4 linked regions of the Homo sapiens genome follow. The protein of the gene in region 3 interacts with the protein of the main gene of each other region in a pairwise test. Each region holds a gene or a part of one and is shown on either strand. Other genes may lie near its edges.

What was found.
Region 1: the proteins of WASHC1 (region 3) and KRT28 interact in a two-hybrid assay, tested with the Homo sapiens proteins (one large-scale study listed by BioGRID).
Region 2: the proteins of WASHC1 (region 3) and NUP62CL interact in a two-hybrid assay, tested with the Homo sapiens proteins (one large-scale study listed by BioGRID).
Region 4: the proteins of WASHC1 (region 3) and OSTF1 interact in a two-hybrid assay, tested with the Homo sapiens proteins (one large-scale study listed by BioGRID).

What each region holds. Positions count from the first base shown.
Region 1 is NC_000017.11:40,796,117-40,801,694, reverse strand, and holds the start of KRT28 (keratin, type I cytoskeletal 28), read left to right. Parts: upstream 1-1,735; 5' UTR 1,736-1,801; coding exon 1,802-2,251; intron 2,252-2,695; coding exon 2,696-2,778; intron 2,779-3,303; coding exon 3,304-3,460; intron 3,461-4,413; coding exon 4,414-4,575; intron 4,576-4,653; coding exon 4,654-4,779; intron 4,780-5,578. UniProt on the Homo sapiens protein: Essential for the proper assembly of types I and II keratin protein complexes and the formation of keratin intermediate filaments in the inner root sheath (irs).
Region 2 is NC_000023.11:107,122,415-107,127,509, reverse strand, and holds the end of NUP62CL (nucleoporin-62 C-terminal-like protein), read left to right. Parts: intron 1-3,177; coding exon of another isoform or gene 3,178-3,364; 3' UTR 3,365-4,083; downstream 4,084-5,095.
Region 3 is NC_000009.12:12,607-16,916, forward strand, and holds the end of WASHC1 (WASH complex subunit 1), read right to left. Parts: intron 4,271-4,310; coding exon 4,112-4,270; intron 3,456-4,111; coding exon 3,303-3,455; intron 2,544-3,302; coding exon 2,475-2,543; intron 2,335-2,474; coding exon 2,201-2,334; 3' UTR 1,907-2,200; downstream 1-1,906. UniProt on the Homo sapiens protein: Acts as a component of the WASH core complex that functions as a nucleation-promoting factor (NPF) at the surface of endosomes, where it recruits and activates the Arp2/3 complex to induce actin polymerization, playing a key role in the fission of tubules that serve as transport intermediates during endosome sorting.
Region 4 is NC_000009.12:75,139,632-75,144,719, forward strand, and holds part of OSTF1 (osteoclast-stimulating factor 1), read left to right. Parts: intron 1-1,202; coding exon 1,203-1,301; intron 1,302-5,088.

The sequences.
Region 1 (5,578 bases), on a different chromosome or scaffold from region 3:
CCCTCTGCCTCATCATCCAAAAACCTTGACAATGGCTCACAGCCCACTTCCCTCCTGTCTCCTGCCATCATGAGAAACTTCACGCCTTTATAGATGGTACATTTAATGTCACAGACAGATAGTTCCTGACCTCCTACTCTCTTGCCTTTCAGGTCCAATCCACTTCTGACTTCTTGTTCCAGTGACTGTTGGTCCACTCCCATGACTACTCTGTGGACTTTGGTGACACCTGGAGTTGTGCCTACTTTAAAATTCTAAATTCTGGTTTCCACTATCCAATTTTAGCCTGTCATCCTTCACCTTTATCAATCTCCTCCTCACACTCCGCCTGCTCCATGACCTCATAAGGATACCCAATGACTCACCCTCTGCCCTTTTCTTCAGTCCATCTGTCCCTCTGGTTTTACTTTCTTCTTGCTATATGATCATACAGTCAATCGCCTCAATTGTTTTCTCAAGAACACCAGAAATTTCTTTGCCACTATTTCCTTCTTCTGGACCTGTCTTCAAATCCCAAAACCCACATCAATCTGATCATCATCCTTTCTATTCCTGCACCAGGATTACTTCCAAATATGCAGTTGAACATCATTATAAATGAGAGCTGGACCCTCCAATTTTCTTTTACTCATTGCTAGTCAAGTATTTTTCCAGTTCAGTATACATATTCTAAACAGTCATTCTTGCTATCAGTCACCTTCATCTGGAACATTCTGGCAACCCCTCAAATCCAGTTGGTCCAAACCTAAACTCAGTGTCTTCCTCCTCCTCTATTCCCCATCTCAGTGAATATTATGAGTTCCCAGAATCTAAAATTAATTACCTAAGAGTTATCCCCAATTCTGCCTTATTCCCTACTCTCCAAATTCAATCATATTACCATATGCTCTCAAAGCCATCTTCTCTGCATCCCCACTGCCTTCATCCTTCTCACCTGGACCATTATTCCAACCTTGTAATTGACCACCTTGTTTCATTTCAACCTGATCATTTTGCCCTCTGCTTTTTACTTAGGATTCATTACAAACTCTTTAGACCAGCACAGAAAGCTAACCATGATCCAGCCCCTGTCTGGACCTGACAATAGATTTCTTAAAGATTGTAATCACGCATTTTTCACTTCTGCATTTAGTTAACACTATGTCTTTCATTTTAGCACTTAGCATAGAGCACCAAACATCATAACCATGCTATTTTAAACAAAATAATAGGTCAATATTTGTGTCATTGTCCAAGATAATAAATAGATGTTATAATCATGGTAAGAACAGAGATGTCACTAGCCTCTGTTTTCTAAATAACACATTTTTTTCTGGTGGGATAAAATATCTGTTTCTGTAATTAGCAGTCCTTTATACCCCTCCATGGTAATTGAGACCCTACTGTACCTCACAGAACTCTATCATAATCTTACTTAACTTTATAAAAAATTTGATAATACCTGGCGCCAGATAATGACAGTATATGCCTAGGGTCTAGATGAAAGGAAAGGATTACTCACTCAAAATTAGAAGTTAAATTAATAAACTTAATATAGAACAAACCCTATTATATTTAAGATAAGAAATAGCCCAAAGCAACACCGAGGGATGTTAGACATTAATTATTTTTAAAATCACCCAATTATACATAATTTTATGCTAATCTAAGTGATGCCATTTTGCTTTTGGCATGTATAACTCAAATAGGAACGCCCCAATAATGATATATAAAAACCCAAAGAAATTATCAGTGCATGATATTCTGTTCTCTTGGGACATTACAGTTTTGCATAGACAAGGTGAACATTTCTCAAAACACCATGTCTCTCCAATTTTCTAATGGATCCAGGCATGTTTGCTTAAGGTCTGGAGCTGGATCTGTCAGACCCCTCAATGGAGGTGCAGGCTTTGCAGGCAGCAGTGCATGTGGTGGCTCTGTTGCTGGAAGTGAATTTTCCTGTGCCTTGGGAGGGGGCTTGGGCAGTGTTCCTGGTGGGAGCCATGCTGGTGGTGCCCTTGGAAATGCTGCTTGTATTGGCTTTGCTGGAAGCGAAGGGGGACTCCTCTCTGGAAATGAGAAGGTGACCATGCAAAATCTTAATGACCGCTTGGCATCCTACCTGGATAATGTGCGAGCTCTGGAGGAGGCAAATGCTGAATTAGAGAGAAAAATCAAGGGTTGGTATGAAAAATACGGACCTGGATCTTGCCGTGGACTTGATCATGACTATAGCAGATATCACCTAACAATTGAGGATCTTAAGAATAAGGTGAGAAATCACAGATTTGGAACTAACCCAAGTATTTAAAACTAAGAAATACCTAACAAAAGACATACAATAAGAAATGCTTCATGACTGTTATAACTTGTATTTATTTATTTAGATAAACAATTCTTCCTACTATTCAAAAATGGGCCCTTTGATTCATGAATTTTAATGTAGTTAAAATGTTATTAGTTCCATTGTTTATGTTGAAGTACATTCATAGGCATATGAATAAAAAAGTATTGTAGTTCTAAATTTAGGGGAATATATGAGAATAAATAAAACCATGTCTTTAATTTTTAAAAGTTAAACTTGAAACATTTTGATTATTACATAAGGAGGTGAAATTTTTATGCAAAAACTTGAGTAACCTTTTTCATTTCCTGAAATAATGAATCACATAAAAGCATACTTACTTGTTGTGTTCTCTGTTTTGGTTTATTCTAGATTATCTCCTCCACTACTACTAATGCTAATGTCATTCTGCAGATTGATAATGCCAGACTGGCTGCTGATGATTTCAGGCTAAAGTAAGTGACAGAAGAAAATCCTGCTCTAGAAAAAAGTTTCTATTTATTTAATTTGTTAAATAAAATTTCTATTTCATCCCAAGTAGAATGAACTATCACCTAAAAGATAAAAGGAAGCAAAGGATTTGTATTATAATGTTACAATCAACTTATACATAGTTATTATATTCCTGGGACAAAATATCAATATATTTCTCTGCCTGCCTAGAATACTGCCAAGCACAAAGTAGATGCTCAGTAAATCATTAGTCAACTAAGGAAAAACGTTAACTAAAATAAAATTCCAAAATGGTGTATTTTTATTTAACTAGGTTATGCTATTGGAATTTGTGTGATGAAATAACTTCCAATTATCCTGTACAGAATTGAGTGGGGGTAATGCAGGAGCGCTTTCTTCATATATTTTTATACTATTTACAGTCCTAATTCAATTTCTAATTTTCAGTTTAAAGCAATTGGGATTGAATATTTCTGTTTCTTGGGGTAGTCTTACTGGCACTGAAATTCACTTAAATGCCCCCCAAGGTATGAAAATGAGCTCACCCTTCACCAAAACGTAGAGGCCGACATCAACGGATTACGGCGAGTCCTGGACGAGCTGACGCTCTGCAGGACCGACCAGGAGCTGCAATATGAGTCTCTGAGTGAGGAGATGACATATCTCAAAAAGAACCACGAAGAGGTAGGAGAAGCTTTACCTGTAGTCCAATCACAACTCTGTACATTTTAAATACTGGGCAGGGGTTGGGGGTTAAAATCACAATAGTAATTCAGGTTCATTGTTATAATTTGCCAACGGATACAGACAGATTAGTCTAATAATACTACCTACTACGAGGGGATGTTAAAAGGCTTCAATGAATTAATACATATCACACGCTCAGAACAGTGCCTGGCCTATAATAATCACTCAATAAATGACAGCGGTCATCCCTAGGATGAATGCCTATGAGGGCCAGGATTTCAGGATTTTTTCTACTGTTCTATTCCCATCAACCTGACATTTAGTCAGTAACTATATGTTGAGTAACTCTCCGGTCTTTAAATCCCTTTCTCATTTAAAAGAATAAATTACTTCTCTTGGGGTGCTATGACTGTTTTTGGTGGTGGTGGTAATTTTAATTAACAGGTCCCTAATTTTTTTTGTTTGTTTTCTATTGCTTTGTTTTGAGACAGAGTCTCGCTCTGTGGCCAGGCTGGAGTGCAGTGGCGCAATCTCAGCTCACTGCAACCTCCACCTCCCAGGTTCAAGCAATTCTCCTGCCTCAGCCTCTGGAGTAGCTGGGACTACAGGCGCACACCACCAAGCCTGGCTAATTTTTGTATTTTTAGTAGAGATGGGTTTTCGCCATGTTGGCCAGGCTGGTCTGGAACTCTTGGCTTCAAGTGATCCGCCCGCCTCAGCCTCCCAAAGTGCTGGGATTACAGGAGTGAGCCACCTCGCCCGGTCAACAGTTCACTAATTAAATAGATGATTGGCATGAATATGGACCGAATATGTCAATTAAAAAATTGTGTGCCATAAATTATACACCTGACCGCAAACTTTGAGACATAAAGTAACACGTTTGAGAACTTCTCAGACTGAGTGTGAACCTGCAATGCCCCTAAAGCCACACTCTTGCTTCTCTCCAGGAGATGAAGGCTCTGCAGTGCGCGGCTGGGGGCAACGTGAACGTGGAGATGAACGCGGCCCCGGGGGTAGACCTCGCGGTTTTGTTGAACAACATGCGAGCGGAGTACGAAGCCCTTGCAGAGCAGAACCGCAAGGACGCGGAGGCCTGGTTCAATGAGAAGGTGAGGTGGGCCCCGTCTCCCTGCTCACACCTCCCCGGGGGTGGGGACTCCGTGTGACCCTTTTTCCCGGCCCTACAGAGCGCCTCGCTGCAGCAACAGATCTCCCACGACTCAGGCGCAGCCACTTTCGCCCGGAGCCAGCTCACCGAGATGAGGCGCACCCTGCAGACCCTGGAGATCCAGCTGCAGTCCCTGATGGCCACGGTAGGTGACAGCGAAGGTCAGCCTGGATCCTGTGATTCTAGAAAGCCTCCGAGAAACACTTCCCTCTGCCCTTCCTTCTTTTTTCCTATTATACCTTTGCCTGCAAATACTTAGCAGAGAGAGTGGAGGAGAGCAGGAAAAAACAGATGCATAGACACTCAAAAGAGAGCTTTTTCTTCCTCCTTGACATCACTGGGAGTTTCCTTCCTGGCTGATGCTTAGTGCTCATTTCATGAAAATAGACATTTCACATAGATCCTTTCTCAGGGTAATTCAGCTTAGGTCCGCAAAACAAACAGCAGCAATATTGCTGCACCAGAAAATTAGCCACAGGTCTATGATCAGGGGTGTGGGGCTAGTGTCCCACAGGGCAGGGAGCCAGCATCACACCAGCATCTCCTGATACTGATGAAGACATATTAGAAGCCACATGTGGTTTCACCAGGCAGAGGAAGAGAGGGTACACACCTGAATGCCACATGGGCACTGTCAGGCTCTTCATCGCCACAGAGTCCAGGGCAGAGGTCAAATCCCGGAGGGCACACCTGGGAGCCAGGCCTTCAGCCACTTGGGCATACCACCAGCTCCTGGCTTACTTCAAAGGTCAGCATGGCGTCAACCCAGGATTAAAAATGGCTTCCCTTCTAGAGTGTGAGCTGGCAGTGCCCAAAAGGCTTGACTTTGAGAATTACGGCATGCACATGGCCTAAGGACTCCCTTCCCCATAAGAGGTTTCGTGCCTCCTGAGGACACCAGGTTGTAACACAAAGAAGAGAGCAGCTGTTACCCAAGTGAGTGC
Region 2 (5,095 bases), on a different chromosome or scaffold from region 3:
TGACACTGACTGGAAGCAGCTTCACCAAAATCTTTTGAGAATAATAAATAATTGTTTTAAAATATTTTAAAATACACAAATATACCACCTTAACCAATAGCCATTTAGTTAGGCCTATAGAGTTGTACAGACATCAAACAATCCAGTATTAGAACACTTTTTTTACCGCCAAAATTTTCTCTTGGCCATTTGCAGTTATTCCCCATTTCTATCCCAAACCCCATGCAACCACTAATCTACTTTCTGTCTTTATAGATTTGCCTTTTCTGGAGAGTTTATGTAGATTGAATCATATTATATGTGGCCTTTTGTGTCTGGTTTCTTTCATTTAGCATAATATTTTCAAGGTTCATCTATGTTGTAACATGTATCAGTACTTAATTCCTGTTATTGCTGTGTATCATTTCATTGTACAGTCATACCATATTTTGTTTATCCATTCATCAGTTGATGGACATTTCTTGGTTTTTTTTTTTTGAGACAGAGTTTCTCTCGTCACCCAGACTGGAGTGCAATGGCACAATCTCAGCTCACTGCAACCTCCACCTCCTGGGTTCAAGCGATTCTCCTGCCTCAGCCTCTTGAGTAGCTGGGATTACAGGCTCCTGCCACCACACCTGGCTAATTTTTGTATTTTTAGTAGATACAGGGTTTCACAAGGTTGGCCAGGCTGGTCTCGAACTCCTGACCTCAGGTGATCCTCTTGCCTCGGCCCCCCAAAGTGCTGGGATTACAGGCATGAGGCACAGCACCCAGCCTCTTGTTGTTTTTTAAAATATAGTTTTAGCACTTACATTTAGATTGATAATCCATCTTGAGTTGATTTTTGTATATAGTTAAAGGTGGGGGTTTGATTTCATTTGGATGTAGATATCCAGTTGTCCCAGAGCCATTTGTTGAAAAAGATTATGATTTCTACCATTGAATTGCCTTGGTACCTTATAAGGTTTTATTTCTGGACTTTGTTTCTGTTTCATTGATCTCTATGGCTATTATTGCCCATATCATGCTGTCTTGATTACTTGATTAAGTTTTAAAATTAGATAGTGTTAAATCCTACAGTTTGTTCTTATTTTTCAAGATTGTTTTTTTCTGGATCCTTTGCCTCTCCATATACATTTAAATTAAGCTTGTCTATTTCTATAAAAAGAGCCTGCTAGAATTTTCATAGGGATTACATTGAATCTGTAGATCAACTTGTGGAGAATTGCCATCTTAACAATAGTGAGTCTTTTAATCCATGAACATGGAATATATCTCCACTTATTTAGATATTCTTTAGTTTTTCTTAGCAATGTTTTTTTGTTGTCAGTGTACAGGTCTTATACTTCATTTGTTAAGTTTATTCCTAAGTATTATAATTCTTTTTGATGCTATTGTGAATGAAATTGTTTTCTTATTTTCATATTGTTTAGAACAATTATTTTTTAATAATGTCAATATGTGTATGCCATATTTAATATGCTGGCAGGAACCAGTCAATCACTGATGCTTGTCATGGGACCAAAATTCTGGGCATTAAGTACCTAGGTGCAGTTTTTGCCCTTAAAGAATGAAAGTCCTAAAAAATTTAAAGTATGTTAATACAGAAATAGTCCTGGGAATTCAATTAGAAGACATGACAAAATGCTAATAGTAAGGCTTTCTTAAGAATGCTGACTTGTATTTCTTGACAGTTTATTGATTTTTAAAATCATTATAAATGTACCCCTTTGCATTTAATATGTATCAATCAGCAAATTACTAGAATGTGCCTATGTTGACACTTCTGATCTCAAGTTAATGGTTTGTTGTAGTGCTCATCTGTGCTTCCATCATATTAAAAACTGTTATTTAGGTGAAAAAATTGCACCCCGCAGTTAGTTATTACAACAAAAAGGAGATATAGTTTGCCAGGTTGAACATAATGTTTTTCTGGCCTTTTATAGACAGCCAGCATTGAAATCACTGTCCTTAAAGCATGATCTTGCAGAATGTCTTTATAAGATAAAATGAGGTATTACACTTTAAAAACTGGGTAACATTAGGGTTTTTCTGATTGGGTGAAGAAAATTAAAGTATATTACAGCTGGCCCTTCAACAATGAAGGGTTTAGGGGTGCTAATCCCTACACAGTAAAAAACCAAATATAACTTTCGACTCCCCAAAACTTAACTACTAATAGCCTACTGTTGATGGAAGCCTTACCACTAACATAGTCAATTAACACGTATTTTGCATGTTATATGTATTATTATATACTGTATTCTTATGATAAAGTAAGCTAGAGAAAAAGAAAATGTTGTTAAGAAAATCATAAGGAAGAAAAGAAACATTTACCAGTTATTAAGTGGAATTGGATCATCATAAAGTTCTTCATTCTCTTCATCTTCATGTTGAACAGGGTGAGGAGGAAGAGGAGAGGGTGGTCTTGTCTCAAGTGTGGCAGAAGTGGAAGAAAATTCACGTATAGTGAACTTGCGCAGTTTAAACCTATGTTTTCCAAGAGTCAACTGTATATCGTTTAAATTTTTTAGTGTTTCTCTTGTAAATTGTTTTTCTTCTTGGGCACCAGTTATGGCTTATTCATGAGTAACCATTAATGAACACTAAAAGAAATGACAAAGTTTATTTGTGCATGTTAATAGAAAAACTCAGAGTATCATGCTTACTTCAACAGCTTAGTTTTACTAGCAGAAAGTTACTGTTTCATATGATAAAATTAATGGTATTCTGTGGTACTCTGCCCCTGAGAAAATTTAAGAACCACCAAGTTAAATAAATCATTATTGGAAAAGAACAGAAATGTAAATATACTCAGTGCGCTCATTTGCTTATAGGTAGCTAAGACCCACCAAAACCTATACTCCCAATTTAATGACTACCCTGTATGTCACTTTTAGGGTATAATGAGTCAAAAAGCAGTTAACACCTCATCCTAACAAAACATAAATGTCAACTAGACAGTTATTTGCCTGAAAGCTAGGGAGAGCAGAAAAAAAAAAAAGTCTTGTCCATTGTTTGCACAGTTTCCAAACAGATAGATGAGTGTTTTTTTCTTATGTGTTTTCTAAAACGTAAAGCTATTGAAATTGCTATGTAAAATTTTGTTAATCATGTGTTGAAAGGAATACGTAAATTATGTTCATGGGATATTTTGGCCTTAGATTAATGATTGTGTGACTTTTTCTCCTATAGGCATGCTGCGAAGGAAGGTAGAAGTGGTAACACGGGTTTTCGAGGATTATCGTCACGAGGAGCATGCACACAATGTCAACACTGCTTTTTAGTGAATGACCATATCTTCAGCATGTCGTTTCTGGATTATTACCTACAAATTCTGATGTTAAATAGAGTAGTATTTATACTTAATATTTCATCTTGATCATAATGAATTGTGCATCCTTTTTTTCATTTAAGTATTGTACTGTTGAGAATTATACCTTAGTTTTGTTTTTAGTATTAGAAAATCAAAATTATACTAGCCCCTTTGTCCAGACAGCAACCTCTTAGATGCTGACTCTATATGTGTAATTTATGTCTTACTCTCCCTGGCATCAGTACACATCATCCTTCTCACTCCAGTTGAATCATAGGGTGATGTCTGCCAAAAGTACATGCCAACCTATATAGTGCTAGATACTGTAAAGTCTCTTCTCCTCAAAGGAACCTACTGTCTAGTTTGAGATATAATTAATGCTTGTCTGCATAAAAACAATATAGATAATATAAAGAAGTGCAGTATGAATTATAGAAAGTGTGTTATAGAGATTCAGAGCAGGGAGGAAAAGTTAGGGTAGATTATTATTAAAGGGTTAAGGAAAGGTAAGTTTCAAGGAATTTGGTTATTTTTAATGTATGGATATACTGGCATTTTATTTGGTTTTAGCATATGATTTATAGTTGGTGATTTCCGTATATTTGTTTGTTTTTCTTTTTTTTTGTTTGTTTGTTTTGTTTTGTTTTAAATAAGCCTTGTTCTTAGGTTTGGAACAGTCTGGTCTCCTGTGTTTCATGTTTCACCTAAGTCATAAATAAAGGTAATGTCCTAAAAAAAAACATGTAATACTGAAATTAACTATTAAAAGTTTTTAAGTGACTAGAGCTCAGTAACCTATAATTTATTGAGCTAAATTTTCTGTTGTACTGATTGCACACGACCATCGTGGCGGGTACACATTACACGAAGAAATATTTTTGAAATGAATATTAGCAACGATTAGTCTTATGAGCAGACTAAATGCCAAAATTGACATGGACTCTTTTTTTTCTACTCAAACTTTTCCAAGCAGCAGCTTCTTATCCAGTAAGTTTTTGTAACCACGCAGAATTATAGAATGTGAAAATAATCCAGAACTCATATAATCTTGTGAATTATTTCTGTAGATACACAACTTTTAAGTATAATCTTTAGTAATCTCTAATTTTTCAGTTCAGTATTATTACTCTTATACTGTAGATAAGAGTAATACTAAAGACATTTTTTCCCATTGCTTTTGGAGATTCAACTCTTGTAAAGTAGCCTGTGTACAAGTTCTACATTCAGTAATGAAAATATAGTTTATCAGAAGAAACACTGACTCTAGTCTTGTTCCTGCCTAATTAACTGGACAAATAATTTCATCTTGGGCATTATCTTTGTCCATAAATGAAAGAGTTGGATCATATTAGGGTTTCCCAAACTGTTTTGTGAGAAGGAACTGGTTTTCATTTCTCTGAAGTTTTGAGATTCCTTTATGTCTTTTCACTGTGAGTAGAGTGCTTACTCTATATTTCCTAAGTAAAATAAAGAAAAAGGAGACTACAATACTGCTTATACTATCTTACTGTTACATTATCTTCAGTGGGAGTTCTAGTGTTTTTCCTAGTACATAGAAGATGCCAGAGGATAGCAACTGGCTTCTAGATTGATCTAGTAATGTTATTAAGACTTACAGGGTGATCTCAGTATACTGTCTGGAATTGTACATTGGACTAAATCATAAATCATCTCTAAGATTCTTCCTGACCATTTCTAACATGTAAAGAAATGACATTGTTGAACAATTTTTTTTTGTTTGTTTTTTGAGACAGGGTCTTGCTCTGTCACCTAAGCTAGAGTGCAGTGCCGTGATCT
Region 3 (4,310 bases):
TAGGTGCAGAGAGGGGAGGGGCAGAGCCGCAGGCACAGCCAAGAGGGCTGAAGAAATGGTAGAACGGAGCAGCTGGTGATGTGTGGGCCCACCGGCCCCAGGCTCCTGTCTCCCCCCAGGTGTGTGGTGATGCCAGGCATGCCCTTCCCCAGCATCAGGTCTCCAGAGCTGCAGAAGACGACGGCCGACTTGGATCACAATCTTGTGAGTGTCCCCAGTGTTGCAGAGGTGAGAGGAGAGTAGACAGTGAGTGGGAGTGGCGTCGCCCCTAGGGCTCTACTGGGCCGGCGTCTCCTGTCTCCTGGAGAGGCTTCGATGCCCCTCCACTCCCTCTTGATATTCCCTGTGATGTCATCTGGAGCCCTGCTGCTTGCAGTGGCCTATAAAGCCTCCTGGTCTGGCTCCAAGGCCTGGCAGAGTCTTTCCCAGGGAAAGCTACAAGCAGCAAACAGTCCGCATGGGTCATCCCCTTCACTCCCAGCTCAGAGCCCAGGCCAGGGGCCCCCAAGAAAGGCTCTGGTGGAGAACCTGTGCATGAAGGCTGTCAACCAGTCCATAGGCAAGCCTGGCTGCCTCCAGCTGGGTGGACAGACAGGGGCTGGAGAAGGGGAGAAGAGGAAAGGGGGGTTGCCTGCCCTGTCTCCTACCTGAGGCTGAGGAAGGAGAAGGGGATGCACTGTTGGGGAGGCAGCTGTAACTCAAAGCCTTAGCCTCTGTTCCCACGAAGGCAGGGCCATCAGGCACCAAAGGGATTCTGCCAGCATAGTGCTCCTGGATTAGTGATACACCCGGCACCCTGTCCTGGACAAGCTGTTGGCCTGGATCTGAGCCCTCGTGGAGGTCAAAGCCACCTTTGGTTCTGCCATTGCTGCTGTGTGGAAGTTCACTCCTGCCTTTTCCTTTCCCTAGAGCCTCCACCACCCCGAGATCACATTTCTCACTGCCTTTTGTCTGCCCAGTTTCACCAGAAGTAGGCCTCTTCCTGACAGGCAGCTGCACCACTGCCTGGCGCTGCGCCCTTCCTTTGCTCTGCCCGCTGGAGACGGTGTTTGTCATGGGCCTGATCTGCAGGGATCCTGCTACAAAGGTGAAACCCAGAAGAGTGTGGAGTCCAGAGTGTTGCCAGGACCCAGGCACAGGCATTAGTGCCCGTTGGAGAAAACAGGGGAACCCCGAAGAAATGGTGGGTCCTGGCCATCCGTGAGATCTTCCCAGGGCAGCTCCCCTCTGTGGAATCCAATCTGTCTTCCATCCTGTGTGGCCGAGGGCCAGGCTTCTCACTGGGCCTCTGCAGGAGGCTGCCATTTGTCCTGCCCACCTTCTTAGAAGGGAGACGGAGCAGACCCATCTGCTACTGCCCTTTCTATAATAACTAAAGTTAGCTGCCCTGGACTATTCACCCCCTAGTCTCAATTTAAAAAGATCCCCATGGCCACAGGGCCCCTGCCTGGGGGCTTGTCACCTCCCCCACCTTCTTCCTGAGTCACTCCTGCAGCCTTGCTCCCTAACCTGCCCCACAGCCTTGCCTGGATTTCTATCTCCCTGGCTTGGTGCCAGTTCCTCCAAGTCGATGGCACCTCCCTCCCTCTCAACCACTTGAGCAAACTCCAAGACATCTTCTACCCCAACACCAGCAATTGTGCCAAGGGCCATTAGGCTCTCAGCATGACTATTTTTAGAGACCCTGTGTCTGTCACTGAAACCTTTTTTGTGGGAAACTATTCCTCCCATCTGCAACAGCTGCCCCTGCTGACTGCCCTTCTCTCCTCCCTCTCATCCCAGAGAAACAAGTCAGCTGGGAGCTTCTGCCCCCACTGCCTAGGGACCAACAGGGGCAGGAGGCAGTCACTGACCCCGAGACGTTTGCATCCTGCACAGCTAGAGATCCTTTATTAAAAGCACACTGTTGGTTTCTGCTCAGTTCTTTATTGATTGGTGTGCCGTTTTCTCTGGAAGCCTCTTAAGAACACAGTGGCGCAGGCTGGGTGGAGCCGTCCCCCCATGAAGTACAGGCAGACAAGTCCCCGCCCCAGCTGTGTGGCCTCAAGCCAGCCTTCCGCTCCTTGAAGCTGGTCTCCACACACTGCTGGTTCCGTCACCCCCTCCCAGGGAAGCAGGTCTGAGCAGCTTGTCCTGGCTGTGTCCATGTCAGAGCAACGGCCCAAGTCTGGGTCTGGGGGGGAAGGTGTCATGGAGCCCCCTACGATTCCCAGTCGTCCTCGTCCTCCTCTGCCTGTGGCTGCTGCGGTGGCGGCAAAGGAGGGATGGAGTCTGACACGCGGACAAAGGCTCCTCCGGGCCCCTCACCAGCCCCAGGTCCTTTCCCAGAGATGCCTGGAGGGAAAAGGCTGAGTGAGGGTGGTTGGTGGGAAACCCTGGTTCCCCCAGCCCCCGGAGACTTAAATACAGGAAGAAAAAGGCAGGACAGAATTACAATGTGCCGGCCCAGGGTGGGCAGCGGCCCTGCCTCCTACCCTTGCGCCTCATGACCAGCTTGTTGAAGAGATCCGACATCAAGTGCCCACCTTGGCTCGTGGCTCTCACTGCAACGGGAAAGCCACAGACTGGGGTGAAGAGTTCAGTCACATGCGACCGGTGGCTCCCTGTCCCCACCCCCATGACACTCCCCAGCCCTCCAAGGCCACTGTGTTTCCTAGTTAGCTCAGAGCCTCAGTCGATGCCTGACCCAGCACCGGGCACTGATGAGAAAGTGGCTGTTTGAGGAGCCACCTCCCAGCCACCTCGGGGACAGGGCCAGGGTGTGCAGCACCACTGTACGATGGGGAAACTGGCCCAGAGAGGTGAGGCAGCTTGCCTGGGGTCACAGAGCAAGGCAAAAGCAGCGCTGGGTACAAGCTCAAAACCATAGTGCCCAGGGCACTGCCGCTGCAGGCGCAGGCATCGCATCACACCAGTGTCTGCGTTCACAGCAGGCATCATCAGTAGCCTCCAGAGGCCTCAGGTCCAGTCTCTAAAAATATCTCAGGAGGCTGCAGTGGCTGACCATTGCCTTGGACCGCTCTTGGCAGTCGAAGAAGATTCTCCTGTCACAGTTTGAGCTGGGTGAGCTTAGAGAGGAAAGCTCCACTATGGCTCCCAAACCAGGAAGGAGCCATAGCCCAGGCAGGAGGGCTGAGGACCTCTGGTGGCGGCCCAGGGCTTCCAGCATGTGCCCTAGGGGAAGCAGGGGCCAGCTGGCAGGAGCAGGGGGTGGGCAGAAAGCACCCGGTGGACTCAGGGCTGGAGGGGAGGAGGCGATCTTGCCCAAGGCCCTCCAACCGCAGGCTCCAGGGCCCGCTCACCTTGCTCCTGCTCCTTCTGCTGCTGCTTCTCCAGCTTTCGCTCCTTCATGCTGCGCAGCTTGGCCTTGCCGATGCCCCCAGCTTGGCGGATGGACTCTAGCAGAGTGGCCCAGCCACCGGAGGGGTCGACCACTTCCCTGGGAGCTCCCTGGACTGGAGCCGGGAGGTGGGGAACAGGGCAAGGAGGAAAGGCTGCTCAGGCAGGGCTGGGGAAGCTTACTGTGTCCAAGAGCCTGCTGGGAGGGAAGTCACCTCCCCTCAAACGAGGAGCCCCGCGCTGGGGAGGCCGGACCTTTGGAGACTGTGTGGGGCCCGGGCACTGACTTCGGCAACCACCTGAGCGCGGGCATCCTGTGTGCAGATACTCCCTGCTTCCTCTCTAGCCCTCACCCTGCAGAGCTGGACCCCTGAGCTAGCCATGCTCTGACAGTCTCAGTTGCACACATGAGCCAGCAGAGGGGTTTTGTGCCACTTCTGGATGCTAGGGTTACACTGGGAGATACAGCAGTGAAGCTGAAATGAAAAATGTGTTGCTGTAGTTTGTTATTAGACCCCTTCTTTCCATTGGTTTAATTAGGAATGAGGAACCCAGAGCCTCACTTGTTCAGGCTCCCTCTGCCCTAGAAGTGAGAAGTCCAGAGCTCTACAGTTTGAAAGCCACTATTTTATGAACCAAGTAGAACAAGATATTTGAAATGGAAACTATTCAAAAAATTGAGAATTTCTGACCACTTAACAAACCCACAGAAAATCCACCCGAGTGCACTGAGCACGCCAGAAATCAGGTGGCCTCAAAGAGCTGCTCCCACCTGAAGGAGATGCGCTGCTGCTGCTGTCGTCCTGCCTGGCGCCTTGGCCTACAGGGGCCGCGGTTGAGGGTGGGAGTGGGGGTGCACTGGCCAGCACCTCAGGAGCTGGGGGTGGTGGTGGGGGCGGTGGGGGTGGTGTTAGTACCCCATCTTGTAGGTCTGAAACACAAAGTGTGGGGTGTCTAGGGAAGAAGGTGTG
Region 4 (5,088 bases), about 75 Mb from region 3:
AGGCTGGTCTTGAACTCCTGACCTCAAATGATCTGCCCGCCTTGGCCTCCTAAAGTGCCAGGATTACAGGCGTGAGCCACCGTGCTTGGCCTAAAGCCTTCTTGGAAAGCAATCTTAAAATCAGAGATGAAAAAGGAGGTATTACAACTGATACCACAGAAATTCAGAGGATCATTAGAGACTAGTATGAAAAGCAATCTGACAGTAGCTGTCAGAATTTAAAATGGACTTAGCCTGACTTTCCAATACCATTTTTAGTAAACCATTCTTCAGAAATACGTGTGAACAAAGATGTTGTTCAAGGATGTTCACTGGAGTATTTGTGATAATGAAAATTAGGAGTAGCCTAAGTGCCCGTCAATACAGGAGTAATTAAATTTTGGAGCACCACAAAATGGAATACTTAAATGGTTGAGTTACAAATATGTGTATTTGCTAAGAAAACAGTACCATTAGACATTAAAGTTTTAAAAACATGAAATCACAGACCAATACGTGTAGTACGATTTTGTGTCTATATCAATATGTGTATGAATGCACTGATGCAAATAAGGGAGATAAGAACTCACACCCACTTGTTAAGAATGGTTACCTTAGGCGTAGGTAGAAGATGAAGGAATGAAATGGGACTTGTGCTTTTGTTCAGCATACATTTGTATTTTTGAATCCTTAACAATGCAAATGTATTCATGAATTCTGATGTAATTTTGAACACAATAAAGGCAAAGGAAAAGTGGGTAGAAGATGGCTTATGGGAATAATGAATTGCCTCTTGGTTTTACGTGTTGCTATTCTGTTAATTTGCATGAGAGCAGACTTACAGATATAAAATATTAATCCCCTCAAGCACTATCCACTTGGTCTTTTCTAAAGACCCTCTTGAGCAAAAGAGGAAGCAAAGGGCTCATTGAAGTCAAGCCCCACAGGGACCATAAACTCCTCACTGAAAAGTTCACATGCAATTCTATAGGGACTCAAAAGGTTCGGAATTAATTGTTATCACAGGTGCAGCAACAAGCTTCCCGATTAAAGATGCCAAATTATACTGCATGAGAAAGTTTATTGTTTTGAGAACGTTTACTTCTGAGCCAGAGTTGTTCACTAGTTTATTTTGCCAAAAGTTGTTAGCTGTGGGGAGAGAGGATTGGCTACTACTATATAGTCTTCAAAGACACCTAATTGACTTTTCTTGTGTTGGGAAGGTGCTAGAACAGACTTAAGAAACATTGAGAAGAAGCTGGCCTTCGACATGGCTACCAATGCTGCCTGTGCATCTCTCCTGAAAAAGAAACAGGGAACAGGTATTTGTTTTAAATTCTTCTTTCTCCTCTGGTGCCCCATAACTAAGATTTATTAACTTAGAATGGCGCAAAAGAGATAAACTCAGCTGAGTGCAGTGGCTTATACCTGTAATCCCAGCACTTTGGGAGGCCAAGGCAGGAGGTTCACTTGAGCCCAGGAGTTGGAGACCAGCCTGAGCAATAAAGTGAGACCTCTGTCTCTACAAAAAGTACCAAAAATTAGTCAGACATTGTGGTGTGGGCCTGTAGTCCCAGCTACTCAGGAGGCTGAGCTGGGGGATCACTTGAGCCCTGGGAGGTTGAGGCTGCAGTGAGCTGTGATCGCACCACTGCATTCCAGCCTGGGTGAGAGCAAGACCATATCTCAAAAAAAGAAAACCAAAAAAAAAAAAAAAAAAAAAAAAAAAGATAAACTCTTCAGATGATTCTGAAGTTTGTTTCAATATCCTTGATCTTAATGAGAACCCCCAAAATAGGACACCCTCAATTAAACAGAAATTAGACAAGAAACATAATCTTTTACCTTTATTGTGTGTTTCTTTTATTCCTTGCAATTAAGTTCTAATCACCCTGCTTTCCATTACAGTCCTTTTCAGAGAACGATCATCTTCATTCCCTCATTTAAATATGTATTTATGAGTGATTACCACTAAATATTTTTAAAAATAACATTTAATAGCTCCATGATTATATTTTATTTCTGTTTTAAATGAGGATATCAGTAAACTGTAATCAAATTTATTCTAGACTTTGCTAAATCTTCTGGACTTTATTCATAGTATTATGGGTGGTTTTTTAAAATAGAGTTTAAATGTACATTATTATTATTTTTTTAGATGGAGTCTTACTCTGTTGCTCAGCCTGGAGTGCAGGTGTGCAATCATAGCTCACTGCAGCCTCAAACTCCTAGGCTCACGTGATCCTCCCATCTCAGCTTCCTGAGAAAATGGGACTACAGGCATGTGTCATCATGCCCAGCTAATTTTTTTTTTAATGTAGAGATAGGGGTCTTGCCATGTTGTCCAGGTTGGTCTCGAACTCATGGACTCAAGCCATCCTCCTGCCTCAGCCTCCCAAAGCACTGGGATTACAGGCGAGAGCCGCTGTGCCCAGCCTCCTTTTGTTCTTTATTCTAGATATGTCTTTGTTCCAGATTTCTTTTCTTTTTTTAACTTCAGTTTGAATATAGTGTAACTGCTAATCAGTTGGTATTCCTTAATTAATCCATGAGAGCTCACTGGGAGTGCAAGCCTTTCTTTAAAGTAATTCCTCATGGATAGATGGAGATGGGTTCTACTAAGGGAATGGGAAAGTATCAGCTGAGCTGGTGCTCCCCAGCTACATTATGATTGAGAAGCCATATTTGCAATAGTGTGAGAGACATACTTCTGCTTGAGTTCGACCTCCTACTCCTTGCTGCCTTGATTGGGTCAGGAAGTAGGAGTCTGGCCTAACTTCCTTTCTCTGCCACTGACTTCCTGTTGTGTGGCTACCCTTAGCCTGTCCTGACCGAAGAGTAAGGCTTCTTATGACCTGAAGGTATCAGAGTCTAATGCATGCTATGAGCTCCATTTTGATAGACAAGGCATATACCAAACTTTCTTAGACCTCAGAGAGCTTACCCAGAAGCCTTACTCAGGAGTGGTTTGAGTTGAGGGAGGCAGGTAATGAGCCTTTCTGCAGCCTTCGTAGAACAGGGCTGGGAGGCAGGTACTCTTTTCTCTGTGCACCCCAAGTGTGTTTAGTCTACCTTCCTGAATTTGAACTGATTAGGTAATAGATTCATTAATGAGGTAATCTTAGGGCCTGGCAGACAGAGCCAAGAAATGAGTTTTTATATTTCAATTTTCATGTTACTTTTAAAATGTTTTTTCTTGCTTCATTTCCCCAATTATACAGTTAATTTGTATTGTGATCCTCATTGGAATAGGTTTGGACTATTTGGCCATAGAGTTAATTGTCAGCATGAACTCTAAGTTGGAAAAGGTATATTCTGATATTGTTGTCCACTTTTTTTTTTTTTTTGAGACAGAGTCTCACTCTGTTGCCCAGGCTGGAGTGAAGTGACACAATCTCAGTTCACTGCAACCTCCGCCTCCCGGGCTCAAGTGATTCTCCTGCCTCAGCCTCCTGAGTAGCTGGGATTACAGGCATGAGCCACGATGCCCGGCTAATTTTTGTATTTTTATCAGAGATGGGGTTTCACCTTTTTTGTCCAGGCTGGTCTCGAACTCCTGACCTCAAGCGATCTGCCTGCCTTGGCCTCCCAAGGTAGTTGTTGTCTACTTTTAGAAGCACAATGTGGATTTTTTAATAAGTACAAAAATTCACATTTTGCAGTTACTATGGAAGATAACTAGGATATAGGGCTGGGGGTTATACTCGAGTTGAGCCCTTTAACATTTTTTTCCAACTTTTAAAAATTTGTGTATAATTTACATTAAGTAAGTACATAAATCTTAAGCATACAGCTTGATTAATTTTTTTTACACCTGTTCACCACAACCCAGATGAAGCTAGAGAACAGTTCCCACACGCCACATGCCTCCCTCAGTGTCTTCTGCTTCTCTCACCATAGATTAGTTCTGCCCGTTCGTGAACTTTATGTAAATGGAATCAAACAGTATGTACTTTTTGTGACTGACCTCTTTCATTTACATTATGTCTGTGAGAGTCATCCATATGCCTGTGTTTATTTCTCCATCATTTATTTATTGTTTGTATGTTTGTTGGTTGGTTTTAAGTGCTGGTTCTTGATTTGAGATATGTAAAGCCAGGGTGATGGGACTGAGGTAAAATGAACGTGAGCTAGGGAAGGATGGCAGTGCTGCAGGAAGATACATTCCTATGCGTGCTATGCCCAGAGGTGGGCTGTGAAGAGATACAGGCTCATCACACAACACCTGACCATGTGGGAAAACTGCCTCAGAACAGTTCATGAAAGGAAAGAAGGAGAAGGAATTTATTTGCTGACTTGTGCCTGTCTTTTGATGACCACTCAGTCAGAGTCTGCACTGTGGCAAATCATCCTCTCTTTTTAATAGAAGTAAGAATAAAATAAAGAGCAGAAGTAACCATCCAAGGACACAGAATATGGGCAAAACTTAGGATAGTGGAGTAGAAGGGGACAGAGTTTTCCTATTTGTCTCTCAGGCTTTAGCTTAGAAAGCTACATTTTACCAAGTTGACATGAAGTCCTGAAGGTCCTGGGTGTGTGTTGGGGGAGAACAAAATATATTCCTCCCACTTCTTGTGAACTCCTCTTGAGGAGAGTGGAGAAGAATAGAGTCAACCTGGAGACTTCCAGTAGCTTGAAGGCTGGTGTGAAGTCAGTGAAACATGGCCAGGTGTGGCGGCTCACACCTGTAATCCCAGCACTTTGGGAGGCAGGGAGGATTGCTTGCATCTGGGAGTTCAAGACTAGCCTGGACAACATAGTGAGATGACGTCTTTACAAAAAAAATTAAAAACTAGCTGAGTGTGGTGCTGCATGCCTGTAGTCTTAGCTACTTGGGAGGCTGAGGTGGGAGGATCACTTGAGTCCAGAAAGTCAAGGCTGCAGTGAGCCATGATTGTACCACTGCACTGCAGCCTGGGTGACAGAATGAGATCCAGAAAAGAGACTTGGCCTCTGTTCTGCTTTATCTTTCCTTCTCTCTCTTGCAAGATAAATCGGCTTCCACCTCCCTTGTACTGATCATCCCTTCTTCTTTTCTTTTTCTCAATAATCATTTTCCAAAACATGTAAACATGAAAACTTTTTTTTTTAAAAGAGCATTAGCATACC